Homo sapiens: one gene and its partner. The gene in region 2 interacts genetically with the main gene of each other region. Each region holds a gene or a part of one and is shown on either strand. Other genes may lie near its edges.

Region 1 (7,597 bases), on a different chromosome or scaffold from region 2:
CTTTCCACAAATGTCTGAGGTTTCTCCAAAAAAGGAAATGGGGTAGTTTTTAGATTTTATAAATTATAAAGGTCACCAATCCGGCACTACCCAAGGGTGATCTAAAACCTGAGACTACATATTTTACAGTATGAAAAGAAGGGGGAATCCTACCTCTTTGTAAAATACATCCATTTGAAGAGCAATCAGAATTATTAAACCTAGATAATGGTAAGTGGCACAGGCATTGGAACATAAAATGCCTAAGGAGACTTCCCAACACACCCCCAAAGAAACCTTGTCTCTGTATATGAGCTAGTAAAATAATGGCATTTCACAACAAACGTCATCTCTCTTACTATCTCCCACTCCATAAGTTAGTGATTCTATAGGCATGGTCTGTAGCACCATTAGCATCATCTGGAACTAGTCAGAAATGCTAATTCTTGGGCCTTCACCCTAGACCTAGAGAATCAGAGACTCTGGCAGTATAGCCCAACAGTTTGAGATGTAACAAGCCCTCCAGATGATTCTGATCTGAGAACCACTGCCCTAAGATTAGGGAAGATGCTGCACCTGGGGTGGCTCAGGAGCCTGTGTGAACCCTTTTTAACTGAGTGATAATCTCACCTGTTCTTGCCTTCAATTGATACTGGCTTTTAATCTTCATAGACTGATTTCACAGATTAGGATTTGAGTCCTTAGTTCAAGGTCACTATTAGAGGTCAAGTCAGAGCTCCATTCCAGGATCTGCTGACTTCTTCATCAGCCTTGAGTTTCAAACTAAGGCCTTTCTGACCGTGCCAATTCTGGGGCCTAGGACTCTGAATGTTGATAAGGCCACCCCAGTCATCTCCTAATCTACATCATGCTGCCTTCCTCAGATAAATATGAGGACTGGAGCTCCAATTCTTAAAATCAAAAGAGATGGATTTGAGGATAGAGAAAGAAAAAGGGTAAACAGATGCTTCCAAAGGCCCAAGCAACTAAACCACTTGGTGAGGAGTGGACAGAGAGGAGAGAAGACCTAGATGTCTTGTTATAATTAAGAATTAGCTCATTCAAAACAACTGAGTAAAGAGCACAGAGACAATATCTAAGACCTGAATGGTGCTTTTAAAGTTTTCTTAGCTCTTTTCATTTTCATTATCTCATCTGAGTTTACAACAACCCTGCAATGGAGGGAGGTAAGGCCACGATTATCTCCGTTTGACAGAAGAGAAAACTTAAGTTCAGAGTGACTAATCATTTGTCCATCAGCACTGTCATCAGCTGTAAAGCTGAAACTTGACCTCAAGTCTGTCTGACTCTAGAACTGTGTAGTGTATCCACATTATGTGATTCGCACATCTAGAAATCGGCCCCAAAGCAGACTACCCTCAAGGAAAAAGCAAAGAGAAAAACAGGCAGCAGAATGGTGAGCCCCTAAATCCTGGCACTTGAGCAGTGTGAGGGTGTCCCTTTAAGAACGTAACACACAAACCCAACAGCCAAGGTGTTCAGCCAAAAAAGAAAAAAAGAGAGGCATATTTCTAGCCTGCATAATCATTTCTGGACCGATTCCCACTAGCAGCCTCTGAGACGAACAGCAGCTCACAGCCTCGGCTGAAGCTCCTCCACCCCCAGGGTGGCTCTGACTAGGGCGCAGCTCTGACTAGTGTGCAGGCAAAACCCCAAAACTCAAAACAAGAAGTGAAAAAAGTGGAGCCAGGAAAAATTCGTCGGCATCCTCCACAGCCTTACAATCCGCACAATGCCAGTTCCAGGGTCCTGGGGTCGCCCGGAAGGCAATCTTAGGAGAGGGTGGAATGAGATGGAAGTTCCTGCGGACCTACCGATCCTATTCTCTCCCACCCAGTCCCTAGGGAAGCGTAATAGGAAGGGGAGAAGGTTCGTTATGAAATCCTGGGGCCAGAACCAAGGGCAGATACACCCCGGGGACTTTCTCCTAAAGAACAAGATGTCTTTCCAAATTCTCCACCTGCAGGTCCTGTCCTCTGTGAAGATGAACGGGGTGGGGTGGTGAGGTGGCGGGGTGTTGTAAACCTGAGGAAAGGTTGGAGGGAAAATCAAGCCACCCACCTACTCCAGCCACGTTGCCCGGCGGTGTTGGTGAGGCTCGATGCCGGCGTGCACGGCAAGCGCGAATTCGGAACCTGGCGCCCTTGACCAAGCCTGAGATCGGAAAGGGGGCATCGCCCAGGGCCAGCGCCCTGGGGGCAGGGTGCCGTGCCCGCCAGAAAAGCTCGCCTCAGTTTTGGCAGTAATGATTTTCCTAGAAGATGCCAGAGTTCGCGAAGATCGGAGTGATTCGCGGATTTCTGCGCTCAAGCTAGAGGCGCAGCGACCCCGAGCTCCCCCACACTGGGAGCCTCGGGGCAGCATTCTCGGGGCCCATGCCATCGCGGGGACGGTGCGGAAAAAAAGGCTCCATCCTCAACTTTCTCGGAGGAAATCGCTCCGTTCTGCGGCTTGCCCAATACTGCCCGCACAACGGGTCCCAGGGTTGGAGAGAACCAGGGACACGAGTCCCTCTCTGCGCGCACAAAGCAGCTGCGCCGGGGCGCGCGGCCCCCTCTCCCGCCACCCGCCAACTTGGAAGAATCTCTCTGGGAGCCTGCCTACTCCCCTGGCCTCACAGCCACCCGCCTCGGACGGAGCGCCAGGCGCCCCAACAGCCGTGGCGGCTGCAACCGCATCTCCCGGGCTTGGCCTCCGCCCTGACCGCCTGGCTCCCCTCGCCCCGGTCCTACCGTGCAGCCTGGCTCGCGCCCCTGCCGTGCCAGTGCGCGGCACGCGTCCCAGAGCACGAGGCTCCTCCCCGGGGGGCTGCCCCGCGCGGGGCTCCGGGCTCCGGACAAGGCTTAGCCGGCCCGGGTGCTGGCTCGCCGCCGCTCGCGGCTCCCGCGCCGGCTCCTGCTGCCGCGCGCGAAAAGGGAGGGGTTGGGGGGAAACTCCCGGCAACTCCAACTCCGGGCGCTGGAGCTCCAGCTGCAGCCGCGCGCCCGCCCGCCGCCGAGTGCGAGCGCCTGCGAAGCAAACCTGCCCGCGCGGCCGCCTCTGAGCATGCTCAGTGCCGCCGTGGGCGAGCCCGAGCGCCCTGGCCCGGGGCAAAGAGCAGCGGCTAGGGGCTGGGGGCTGGGGGCCGGGACCCGCGACCCGCCCCAGGCCTCGGAGCGCGGAGGTGGCAGAGGAAGGGAAAGGCCAATGTAGGGGCGGGGGCCCTGAGCCAAAGACCCGGGAGAAACCGATCTGGGTGCAAGAGCCGGTGCGACTTTCACGGCTTGTGGGAAGTTTGTGGGCTAGAAAGGTGGGCTGCTTCTGTGAGCTTCTCTGTGAGACTATATTCGAAAGGACAACCAGGAAACATTTTTTTTTTTCTCTAGGAAAAAACGAATAGACCCAGCCGATGGGTTTTTATCCTGTGCGCTCCTTCCTTTATTCTTACGATAGCAAACTCAAAGATCTAATGGGGCCTGACAGGCACTGTAACTGGGGGAAGGCGAACTGGAGAGAGCTCCGAAGGCAGGGCCGCTTATCTGCTCTCAGGGTCCCTTGCTATCGGGCAAGAATTAGACCTAGTGTTGCTAGATTTTCTGATTTTTCCAGAAATGACGGAGTATATTCATGTACAATATCCTGATTTGTAAAATCTTGATAACAAATTCAATTTTCTCAAAACACCCTGGACTAAACAAAACATATCTGCGTCCCCTCCCTGCTGAACCCCCCAGACAGTGATTTGAGCATTGTGATTCTGCACTCTTTTAGCGAAGTGGTGCTGAGTGCTCACTGTGGTTTGGGAAAGTGCTGGAAAGGATCCAAGATGATTCAGAATATCTTCGAAGTACTACTAGTTACTAGGGGAAATGGGTTTTCCTGACAGTAGAGCGCTACACTTAAATGCTGGAGCGTTCAAGAAGAAAGACGTTACTAATGTAGAAAGCGGTTGTAAGAACTAACTTTTGGGAAACATCATTAGTAAAAGTATCTGTGTGGGGAGTCACTGCAGGGCCGATAACAGTGCCCCGGAAGGCACTTTTGAGCCTGAAGCAATAGGAAAAACCCCTAAACTTACCCTGTCTTTATTTAAAATTTTGTTATTTTTCATCATGCATTTTTGATATTAATTTTGATTTTTTTAAATATTCCATTAAAATATTAACCTTGATTACTGAATTCTTTGGTGAACCTTTAAGTGCTGTGACTCACCTCACCCTAGCCTGGCCCTGTTGGGGTGTTAGATGGTGGTACACAGACCTGCTTGTTTGGAGTGCAAGGGGTAAGCATTAGCATAGTGAAATAGGAAAGAGGGTTTGAGCTGTGGATGGGGGCTCAGGCAGAAGTCCTGACTGTCAGTCTGTGGCTCCTGCACTTAGTTTGTAGACTACGTGGAGATAGCAGAGATGCTGGGGGAGGAGACAATCCGAACTGAATTCTGTGAAGATGGACAGGGCAGCAGACCCAGGAAGATGGTTTGGAGGGGAAGAATGGGAGAAACGGGGATACCTAGGATATCATAAAACTGATACCCTAGGTATCCCCATTTGGTAGCTACAGTTTTATGAAAATCAGAGAAAATTGCCTGAAAAAGTAAGTTTCTTTTGCTCTGCCTATCTCTGTAGAGACATGTCATGGGGCTACCTTAGTGCCAATGAGTAGTGTGCCGGGGTCCTGGTCTTAACCTCAGCCATTTCCCTACCAGGCTTCCATGGGCAAGTGGCTCAACCTCTAAGCTTCACTTTCCTCATCTGTGGAAGGGAAAACAATTCTCATGGCGTTTTTGTGAGAATCCAAAGAAATGTATGTCTAAGGGCTTTGAAAATGTTGAGAGTTCTTACCTACAAGTCATCTATGTAAAATTTGAATTGAAATAAGGGCCTTTTTGCTTGACAAAAGCTCTAAGTAGCAAGCTTCTTTAATTTAGCAAGCCTTTCTAATGTGTTGGGATGATATTTACAAAACTTTGGAATCAGCTTTTGGGTAACTCAATAATTTTGTGAAGTAAGATACTACTGTACTAGCTTCTATTGCCAGTCATCTCCCTCTACTACCTTCCTTTTTTATCTTCACTTGCCTCTTTTTGTTCTCAATATTGCAGATCTAGTCAAGAGGACTCTCTCCCTCTGTACAAAGTGTTCTCTAACTCATGTACCGGTCATCACGGTAGTGTCTGCCTCAAACACCTGGGACCTACCTTAGTGTGGGAGGTGATTCTCCCTGCAGGTAACCTAATTTGTTGCTGCATTCATGGAGAACAAACCACTGCTTATCTATGGGAAGCATTTTAAGCATGCAGACCTCTCAAAGAAAACAAAAACAAAAACAAAAACAAAAAAGACCGTGGATGTTTAAACAAGAAGCCTTCCAGAAGTCATGTAAAGGAGGAAGTACCTAGCCCAGGATCTGTCACATAACAAGTAGTTACAAATATTTGCAGAATAAATAGCAATTTCCATCGTCAAAGTCTTCTGCATCTGTTTCACCTCCCACAGTGCCTAGGATTTTTTTTTTTTTTTAATCACAATAATGGTAAGGTCATAAAGAAGAACAAGAAGAACAGGAACTAAACATTTATGCAGGGAGAGGTTCTGTACTTTAACAAGTGAAATGCTTTGCTTACATTTTAAATTGTATTTTTAATTCTTGTTAGCAAATAATACATGGTATTTAAAAAAAGTTCAGTGCACAAAAGCTCAGTACAAGGAAAAGCAAGTTTCCCTTCTCAAGAAAGACTAATGTTGCCTGTTTCTTGCATATAGTTATAGAAATACCCTATGCACGTGAGAGCAAGCATAGTCATTTTCTTTTCCATAAAATCTAATCACAAAATGATAGAACTGAAAAAGACCTTATGGTTCATCTAGATGTTAAGTTAGAGGCTTTTAAATTGCTATTCTGGGAAAGAAAAGGAAAACCTAAAAGCGATCTTCCCTGTTTCATAAGTAAGCTCATGATTGTAAGGATGCCAGATCACGTGGCAAAACCCTCCATGTGAACATTAATCACATTAAGTGATACAAGGGAAAACTGAGTTCACCTAAAGTTGCCCTGAAACCCATAATGCCCACTGTCGACCTCAACCTAAAACACCCATGGATATAGATGTCTTAGGTTCCCTACGGCTGTTGAAGGAAGTGCTGTCTAAATAACAAATGGAATAAATTGACATGGACACAGAGGGCTTGATCTGGAATTGGGTATTATAATGTGACTATTTTGAACAGCATCTCTTATGCATCATCAATCACAGTATGTCTTCAAGACTAGTAAAGTCTATATTTAAAATTTTTTTTTCTGCTACATGGTGTAGCAAGTAGCTTTTCAAATTCTTCATTCTGATGATGTAATTTCAGATAAGACATTTAGGAAGTCATCAGCTTATTAACTTTTGGGTTGAACCATATGAAACTGCCATTTTTGTTGGTCATAGTTTCTAAAATATTGGAAATTTCAAATGTTCCATCTTCATTATATTCCTCAAAGTTAGTCCTTGTTCTAGAGCTGTAAGAGGACTTCCTTTAAGTTTTTTAGAATATCACATTTTCCTGCAAGAGCTATGTCACTAAGCTAGTTCCAAAAAACCTATTTAATGTTTGTGGTTTGTAATGGTACCAGATTCACATCTGGTCCTAGGAACTGAGCCTATTCTGTTCAACAGGGTCAAGAAAAAGAAATAAATTTCTCTTCCTCTTTTGAGGGGTATAGCACCGGCCTTTCTGGGCCTTGAAATAGGTGAAAATAATAATTATTTTCCTTTCTGCTCTTTTTGCACCTTACTTCTCCAATATTCTCCTGAAATCCTTTTTCCTGTACCTATTGTCCTCATTCTGTCTGGCCTTTTTCTATCTCAATCAGCTTGTCTTTGCTCTTTATTCTTAACAATCAGCATTCATTTAGTATGCTGCAAGTTGGAACTAAGTAAAATAACTTGATTAAATGAATTCACAGTCGTGTGCAAGACTATCTGCCGTTCCAAAGACATATGCAATTTTAAGAGTATCTTGTAGTTGCAAATGAACATTTCCATAAGAAAATTTTGGAGTTTGAAAAATGACTAGAGAAAGAATCCTGGTAGTGAGGGGCAGAAATAATATATTGAGGAGCAGGAACATTTGGTTCAGTTCCCCATTTTTATACATTTTGTAATTTCTTCTCACCCTTTTACTTTAAAAATATGGATTCTTTTAAAGTTTAGGATTTCATTTTGACTTTCACAATGGCTGTCTTGCCAGTAGCAGTGAGCACCTCCAGACTAGGGAGAGGTCTGCGCCTACTGTATGTATGTGCCATTTGTAAATTGGGAATGAAATGTGTCGCTTCTGGTAACATCGGTATGATGGGATCTGGGAGACCTTCGGAATTCAGATGGGCTTATGGAGCTTATATTTGGGACCCTATTCTGTTTCCTATACAATTACCCTTGGTCTGTGGTTTTATCCTTTAAGGGTTCTAGCTGTCTATAACTGGAGTCCACCTTCTTTTTTGACTGAGGTGACATGGTCCACATTTTATCTCTAATTTACTAAACATATAGTTCCTTCTCTGCTCTGCTTTTAAGAGTCAAGATAAATATTGACTGCTGATATCAAATTTGGTGAGCTTTGGCCCACTATCA
Region 2 (7,022 bases):
GAATATTACAAGCCTAAATATTCTCTAAATTAGTGGGGGGAGGAATGTCTGAGTTTACTTTGCAAAGAACATTATTTAAAAGGCTAGTTTAACATTTTAGTAGTCATCAAGATAAATATAATGTTTTAAAATGATGTTAGAGTGTATACACTTTGGTATACCAAATAACAATAATGATAAATAAAAGAAAATGAGGCCTCAGATTTGCCTTCCTTGTGGCTTTGTTACTAACTAGCCATGAGATCTTAAGCCAGTTATTCGATCCCCAGCTTTCCTCTTCTGTAAAGTAGATATCATAGTGCCTATTCAGCATGCCTTTCTGGTAGCATACATATAAGAGAATAAGATGAGAGAGTTTCTTGAGTATTTTGAAGAACTTAAAAACAGTGCAAATAAAGTGTTTTTTAAATTATCATCTCAAAATTGTATGCCACAGACAACCAACTTATAAAAGCAGTCATAAAATAAATGAGAAATGGATTATGATAAATGGTTTAGAGTGTTCATTGTTATGGTAGTAATGGTGGCAAATTTGTTTATTTGTTGGCCTCTGTAAGAATTTTTTATAGCATTTTTTTAATGCTGAAGTTCTATTAGAATAATTGATGAGATTTCCTTAATTTTTTAAATTCTCTTTTGAAAGTTGTGTTTGGACGTTTTCTATTTTTGTGGTGGTTGTTGTCAAGCTGCCCCCACTCCCACACCTTGCGTTCAGCTTCCTGTACCTCCCTACTTCCCCTCAGGTGCACACACAAATACAACTTCTCACCCCACAAAAGTTCTTGGATAAAACCTAAGAAGAGTATCTCATGAACATTCTTAAATAGCATACTAAATTATATAGCTAGCTTTATCATAATGCTACCTTTAAAAATATTTTTCATAATGTATTCTTTCCTAGGAATTTTAAGACTGAGCAGGCTTTTGCTATATCAATACTAGTCAAATTGTTGGTCTTTTATTATGTAAAGTGCCTGAATAATTTTTGCAGGCTGAAGCAGAGGACCTGGATGGAGGAACATTATCACGGCAACATAATTGTGGCACACCACTGCCTGTTTCATCTGAGTATGTCTTTGTTACTATCATTGTTTATTTTGGAAAAAATAAACTTTAAAATGTGGAGTGCTGCTCATTGAGGGGTCTAGATGTTTCTCAGTAGCCTGACAGCACTCACAGTACCAGCATGTGTGTCCATTGTCTTATCAAACGTTTTACTGATTTAAAATAGGGCCTATTTTATGGCTCTTCAACTCTTCCTTGCTCCAGGACTTACAGAAGATGAAGTCAGTCTGTTGTTTGCTGGTAGGGGGAAGCCTTTGAATTGTAGTGTATTTCTTAGAAATCACAAAGCACATTTCATGACCCAGCTTTACAAATTAAAACTAATTCAAATGATAAAACCCAACATCAGTAAAATATTTTTATATCAAAAACTACTATAATCATATTTAGACATTTTTATTTGTTTTTTGTTGTTGTTGTTTTCTGAGATGGAGTCTCCCTCTGCTGCCCAGGCTGGAATGCAATGGCGCCATCTCAGCTCACTGCAACTGCACTTCACCTCCCGGGTTCAAGCGATTCTCCTGACTCAGCCTCCCAAGTAGCTGGGATTACAGACATGCACCACCACGTCTGGCTAATTTTTGTACTTTTGGTAGAGACAGGGTTTTACCATGTTGGCCAAGCTGGTCTTGAACTCCTGACCTCAGGTGACCTGCACACCTTGGCCTCTCAAAGTGCTGGGATTACAGGCGTGAGCCACCACGCCTGGCTATTTAGACATTTTTAATTGAAATTTAATTATGGTATTTTTGTCCTTTTGTATATACCCAGTGGATTAAAGTTAACGGTGAATTCACCTGAAGCTTGTTATAACTTTATACTTCTTGTCTGTTTTCTGAACAGGAAAGATATGATCCGCCAAATGATGATTAAAATATTTCGCTGCATTGAGCCAGAGCTGAACAACCTAATTGCATTAGGAGACAAAATTGATAGCTTTAACTCTCTTTATATGTTAGTCAAAATGAGTCATCATGTGTGGACTGCACAAAATGTGGACCCTGCTTCTTTCCTAAGTACTACATTGGGAAATGTTTTGGTGACTGTCAAAAGGAACTTTGACAAATGCATTGTAAGTTTTCTTTTTTAAAAAAATACCTTAGCATCCTAGTCATTGCAAAATATAGGTAAATGTATTTAAAATCGAGGGATTTCCAGCTTTCTGTTGGGGAATCTGTTGTTTATGTCCCTCGAAGCAGGGCATGGCAACAATCTACATGAACAGAGTTAGTTGGGTGGCACTATGCCAGCTAGTTTCCATTCCACACTGTGAATCTTGGCAAGTTCTGGAGGAAGTGGCACAGTGGCACCAGTTGCTTAAGAGATCCACTGGAGGCCAGACGCAGTGACTCACACCTGTAATGCCAGCACTTTTTAAGGCCGAGGTGGGCAGATCACCTGAGGTCAGGAGTTCGAGACCAGCCTGGAGAACATGGCGAAACCCCATCTCTACCAAAAATACAAAAATTAGCCGGGCGTGGTAGCACATGCCTATAATTCCAACTACTCGGGAGGCTGAGGCAGGAGAATTGCTTGAACCTGTGAAGTGGAGGTTGCAGTGAGCCAAGATTGCACCAGTGCTCTCCAGCCTGGGTGACAAGAGTGAAGACTGTGTCAAAAAAAAAAAAAAAAAAATCTACCGAATCACTGACATCTCAGTTTATTAGTCAATGACCATTGATTTAATGAAACAATTGAAACAATCATTTGGGTTTATTGTTATTGTTCTTCTTTTAATACATTCTAGTAAGAAAACTAATTTGATTATTTTAATTATTTAATTTATTTTAATAGTTTAGTAGCTTTAATAATTGTATTTTATTTTAGGAATAAATTGTTATAACTGAGCAATTATCATTTTCCTCCTAATAGAAAAAAATTTGACAACTTTCTTACTATCTGTTACTTTTTTTTTTTTTTTTTTTTTTTTTGAGATGGAGTCTCGTTCTTGTTGCCCAGGCTGGAGTGCAACAGTGCAATCTCGGCTCACCGCAACCTCCGCCTCCTGGGTTCAAGTGATTCTCCTGCCTCAGCCTCCCGAGTAGCTGGGATTGCAGGCATGCGCCACCACGCCCTGCTAGTTTTGTATTTTTAGTAGAGATGGGGTTTCTCCATGTTGGTCATGCTGGTCTCAAACTCCCAACCTCAGGTGATCTGCCCACCTCAGCCTCCCAAAGTGCTGAGATTACAAGCAAGAGACACCGGCCATCTATCCATTACATTTTTTATACTTGTATGTATGAATTGGGCTAGGCCAGGTTAAAAAATGCTTCATGAACACTTCTCAAGGCATGGCACTAGAGAAGGTAATCTAGACAAAGATATAAATTCATATTTTCTCATAAGTTGCATATATATATATAAAGGACATAGGTTTGCCACTGAAGAGGAGGGTGGTTTCTTCTGCCTGTCATACTTCTGTATATCTTATTTCAATAATGTCTTATTTTTGATAAGATCTTATCTCTCATTTATGAACACTGGTCAATAAGATCAATAGACAGCATTTATAAATGAGTGCTTACTGTGTACCAGGCACAAGTCTGGGCACTTTGCACACATTATGTCATCTAATCTTAAACCCAGCCCCTCAATAAGGTAGATTGTTTGAGAGGTGAAGTTACTTTCCCCAGGTCCACAGTTAAAAAATATGGATCTTGTATTCAAACCCAGAAAGTCTGGTTCTAGTACCTGCAATCTTACCACTACCTTTTCTACTGCATCTGTTTTTCACCTCACAGTTACCAATACTGATGAAGTAGAACATTAGTACAGATAATATGAAATAACTGACTATACTCTTAGGGTTTTCTTATACTAATGTCAGAAGCCTAGAGATAATTATTTTTCTAATCCATGTGTCATATGGTTTTTGAGTTATACTCCCCAAATCTCAACACAATGAAATGTTAGGTAGAAGCTGAAATAATACAAAAGTATTTGGCAGTGTAATCATTCCTACTGAGTAGATTTAGATCCCTTCAGAATCATAGAACCATAATTGAATCCGTGGATCGTTTTGAACCTAAGATTCTGTCTGCATGAAACATTTCTTTCGCATTTTGTCATATAATGCACAAGCAGTTTGTGGAACTAAGGCTAAGTGACTAATAAATATATGGAAAATTAAATAATGCAAATCCATATGGAAATGCCTATCCTCCCTCTTTGTTTCTGTACTCTGAAAATAGAGAGTTTGTCTATCCAGACAGAAATTTTAGACTGACGAAAATTGGAAATGACTGTGGTTCTCAAACTTGACCACGTGGCCACCAACCAGAAGTTACCCGGAGGGATCCTATAGGTGCTCTGGAATCTTCTCTCCTGTAACCTAAAATCAGTAATTGCCTTGTACTCATCTTTCATAAATGGTAGAAATGTGTGTTGACTGTTTTTACTTTGTACAGAGACTTGAAGTTCACGGCCTTGATTGTATTTTGTTTTGTTTCATTTTATTTTTTGAGACAGTCTTGCTCTGTCACCCAGGCTGGAGTGCAGTGGCGCAATCTTGGCTCACTGCAACCTCTGCCTCCCAGGTTCAAGCAATTCTCATTCCTCAGCCTCCCAAGTAGCTGGGATTACAGGCATGCACGACCCCACCCAGCTAATTTTTTTTTGTATTTTTTGTAGAGACGAAAATGGCCAGGCTGGTCTTGAACTCTTGGCCTCAAGCGATCCACCCACCTTGGCCTCCCAAAGTGCTGGGATTACAGGCATGAGCCACCGTCCCCAGCTTATAGATGGTTTTAAATAATCTGTATTATTTTGATTTTCTTAAACTTACTGTAAAATGGTTTTATTATCTATAGAATTAGTTTTTCTTAGTTATCCTTGTTTTGATTCATCTTCAATTAGTAAGCATCCAAAGTGTTCTAGGTACCACATAATATCCTGCCTCTATGATATCTATGTATATATCTATATCTCCATCTATATATTTTGTTATGATTATATGTAGTTTTAAAGTTGCTTGGTTATTTATCTCCCTTGCTCTCTGCCTAACTTTAGAGTAACCAAATAAGGCAAATGGAAGAAGTAAAGATCTCAAAAAAGAGTAAAGTTGGAATTCTTCCATTTGTTGCTGAATTTGAAGAATTTGCTGGACTTGCAGAATCAATCTTCAAAAATGCTGAGCGTCGTGGAGACCTGGATAAAGCATACACCAAACTTATCAGAGGAGTATTTGTTAATGGTAAGCTTTTGTTATGTTCTAAAGAATTGTTATAGCTATTGTTTTTATTTCTGGTAACTAAGAAATCGGGAGCAGATAGGTTCATTATTTTGTATATCTTATAATCTTTTTTAGGTTTTCTAACATTAAAGATTTCTTGAATTTGGAAAATAAAACCTATTTGTATTCATTATGAACCACTTACATTTTAGGGTTTATGTGGGCTTATGACTATGCAAAATTGAAAATCTTTTTTTTTTTTTTTTAAGATGGGCCTCACTCTGTCGCCCAGGCTGGAGTGCGGTGGCATGATCTTGGCTCACTGCAACCTCCACCTCCCAGGCTCAAAAGATCCTCCTACCTCACCCTCCCAAGTAGCTGGGACTACAGGTGCACCCTACCATGCCCTGCTAATTTTTTGTAGAAAATCATTTTTTAAACACAAAAACATGACCTTCCAGATTACATTTGCATTTTAACAAGTGGTCTTCTAGAGATGATGGGCTGTGATGTGTGTGTAACCTTAAGCAAATCAATTCACTTATTTAGGACTCAGTTTTTCATATCTACTATACAAGGAAATTAGTACTAAAATACAAGAGAAATTAGTGCTGAAATACTGTAATTCGCTTTCTTCCTGTGTCAGATCCCACAATTAAGTTACAGAAAAGTCTGGACATGTCATTTCATCTGAAATAAATGATCTGATTGCATATATTCAGGAATTGTAAAAGCTAAAAAATTGATAGAAAATGGAATCATCTCACCAATTGTTGCCCAGGTTGGAGTGCGGTGGCATAATCTCGGCTCGCTGCAACCTTCACCTCCCGAGTTCAAGCAATTCTGCTGCCTCAGCCTCCTAAGTAGCTGGGATTATAGGCAGGCATCATCACGCCTGGCTAATTTTTGTATTTTTAATAGAGACAGGGTTTCACCATGTTGGCCAGACTTGTCTCAAACTCTTGACCTCAAGTGATCTGCCCGCCTTGGCCTCCCAAAGTGCTGGGATTACAGGCATGAGCCACCGTGTCCAGCCTTGATTTTTTCTTTTAAAATTCAAAGTAGCTTTGCTTTATCTGATTCTAAAGTAATGTGGCTAGGCACAGTGGCCCACACCTGTAATCGCAGCACTTTGGAAGGACCAGTTGGGGGATCGCTTGAGCCCAGGAGTTCAAGACCAGCCTGGGCATCATAGTGAGGCCTTGTCTGTACAAAAAAAATTTAAAAAATTAGCCAGACGTGGTGGTGTGTCCCTGAGTTTCAGCTACACAGGAGGCTGAGGCAGGAGAATCATTTGAGCTCAGGAGGTCAAGGCTGCAGTGAGCCTTGTTCATGCTACTGCACTCTAGCCTGGATGACAAAGCCAGACCCTGTCTTAAAAATAAATAATAAATGAATGAATGAATTCATTATTCGTTCTTTATAAATCTTTATAAACTAAAACTTATAAAACTTAAGAACAGACAGATATTCCTTTAATTGGATAAAAAATCTATCTCAGGCCTAAAGGTTACATGATACTTAACTGCAACAGTAGAGATATTCCCTCTGAAATGAATTTAAAGCAGAAGTATTGTTAGATCCTTTATTATTTAGCATTGTTATTGAAGTGCTAGCCAGTACAAGACCTGAAACATAAATAACTATTTATCCCCAAAAATCAGCGAATAGAATTTTCAAATCAAGAAGAAAGTAAAGATCATTTTTAATCTTGTTGTACAGAGATAATGTTAAATTTTTATTCTTCCAAACTTTTAAATTCCCTGTCCCTCTCTTCTATATATGG

Evidence for each region.
Region 1: changes in EXOC1 (region 2) and STXBP6 together harm fitness more than expected from each alone (negative genetic interaction), as found in Homo sapiens cells (one study listed by BioGRID).

Annotation. Positions count from the first base shown.
Region 1 is NC_000014.9:25,047,146-25,054,742, forward strand, and holds the start of STXBP6 (syntaxin-binding protein 6), read right to left. Parts: upstream 3,003-7,597; 5' UTR 2,733-3,002; exon of another isoform or gene 2,062-2,732; intron 1,856-2,061; exon of another isoform or gene 1,815-1,855; intron 1-1,814. UniProt on the Homo sapiens protein: Forms non-fusogenic complexes with SNAP25 and STX1A and may thereby modulate the formation of functional SNARE complexes and exocytosis.
Region 2 is NC_000004.12:55,891,644-55,898,665, forward strand, and holds part of EXOC1 (exocyst complex component 1), read left to right. Parts: intron 1-901; coding exon of another isoform or gene 902-910; exon of another isoform or gene 911-991; coding exon 992-1,068; exon of another isoform or gene 1,069-1,069; intron 1,070-1,908; coding exon 1,909-2,137; intron 2,138-5,073; coding exon 5,074-5,257; intron 5,258-7,022.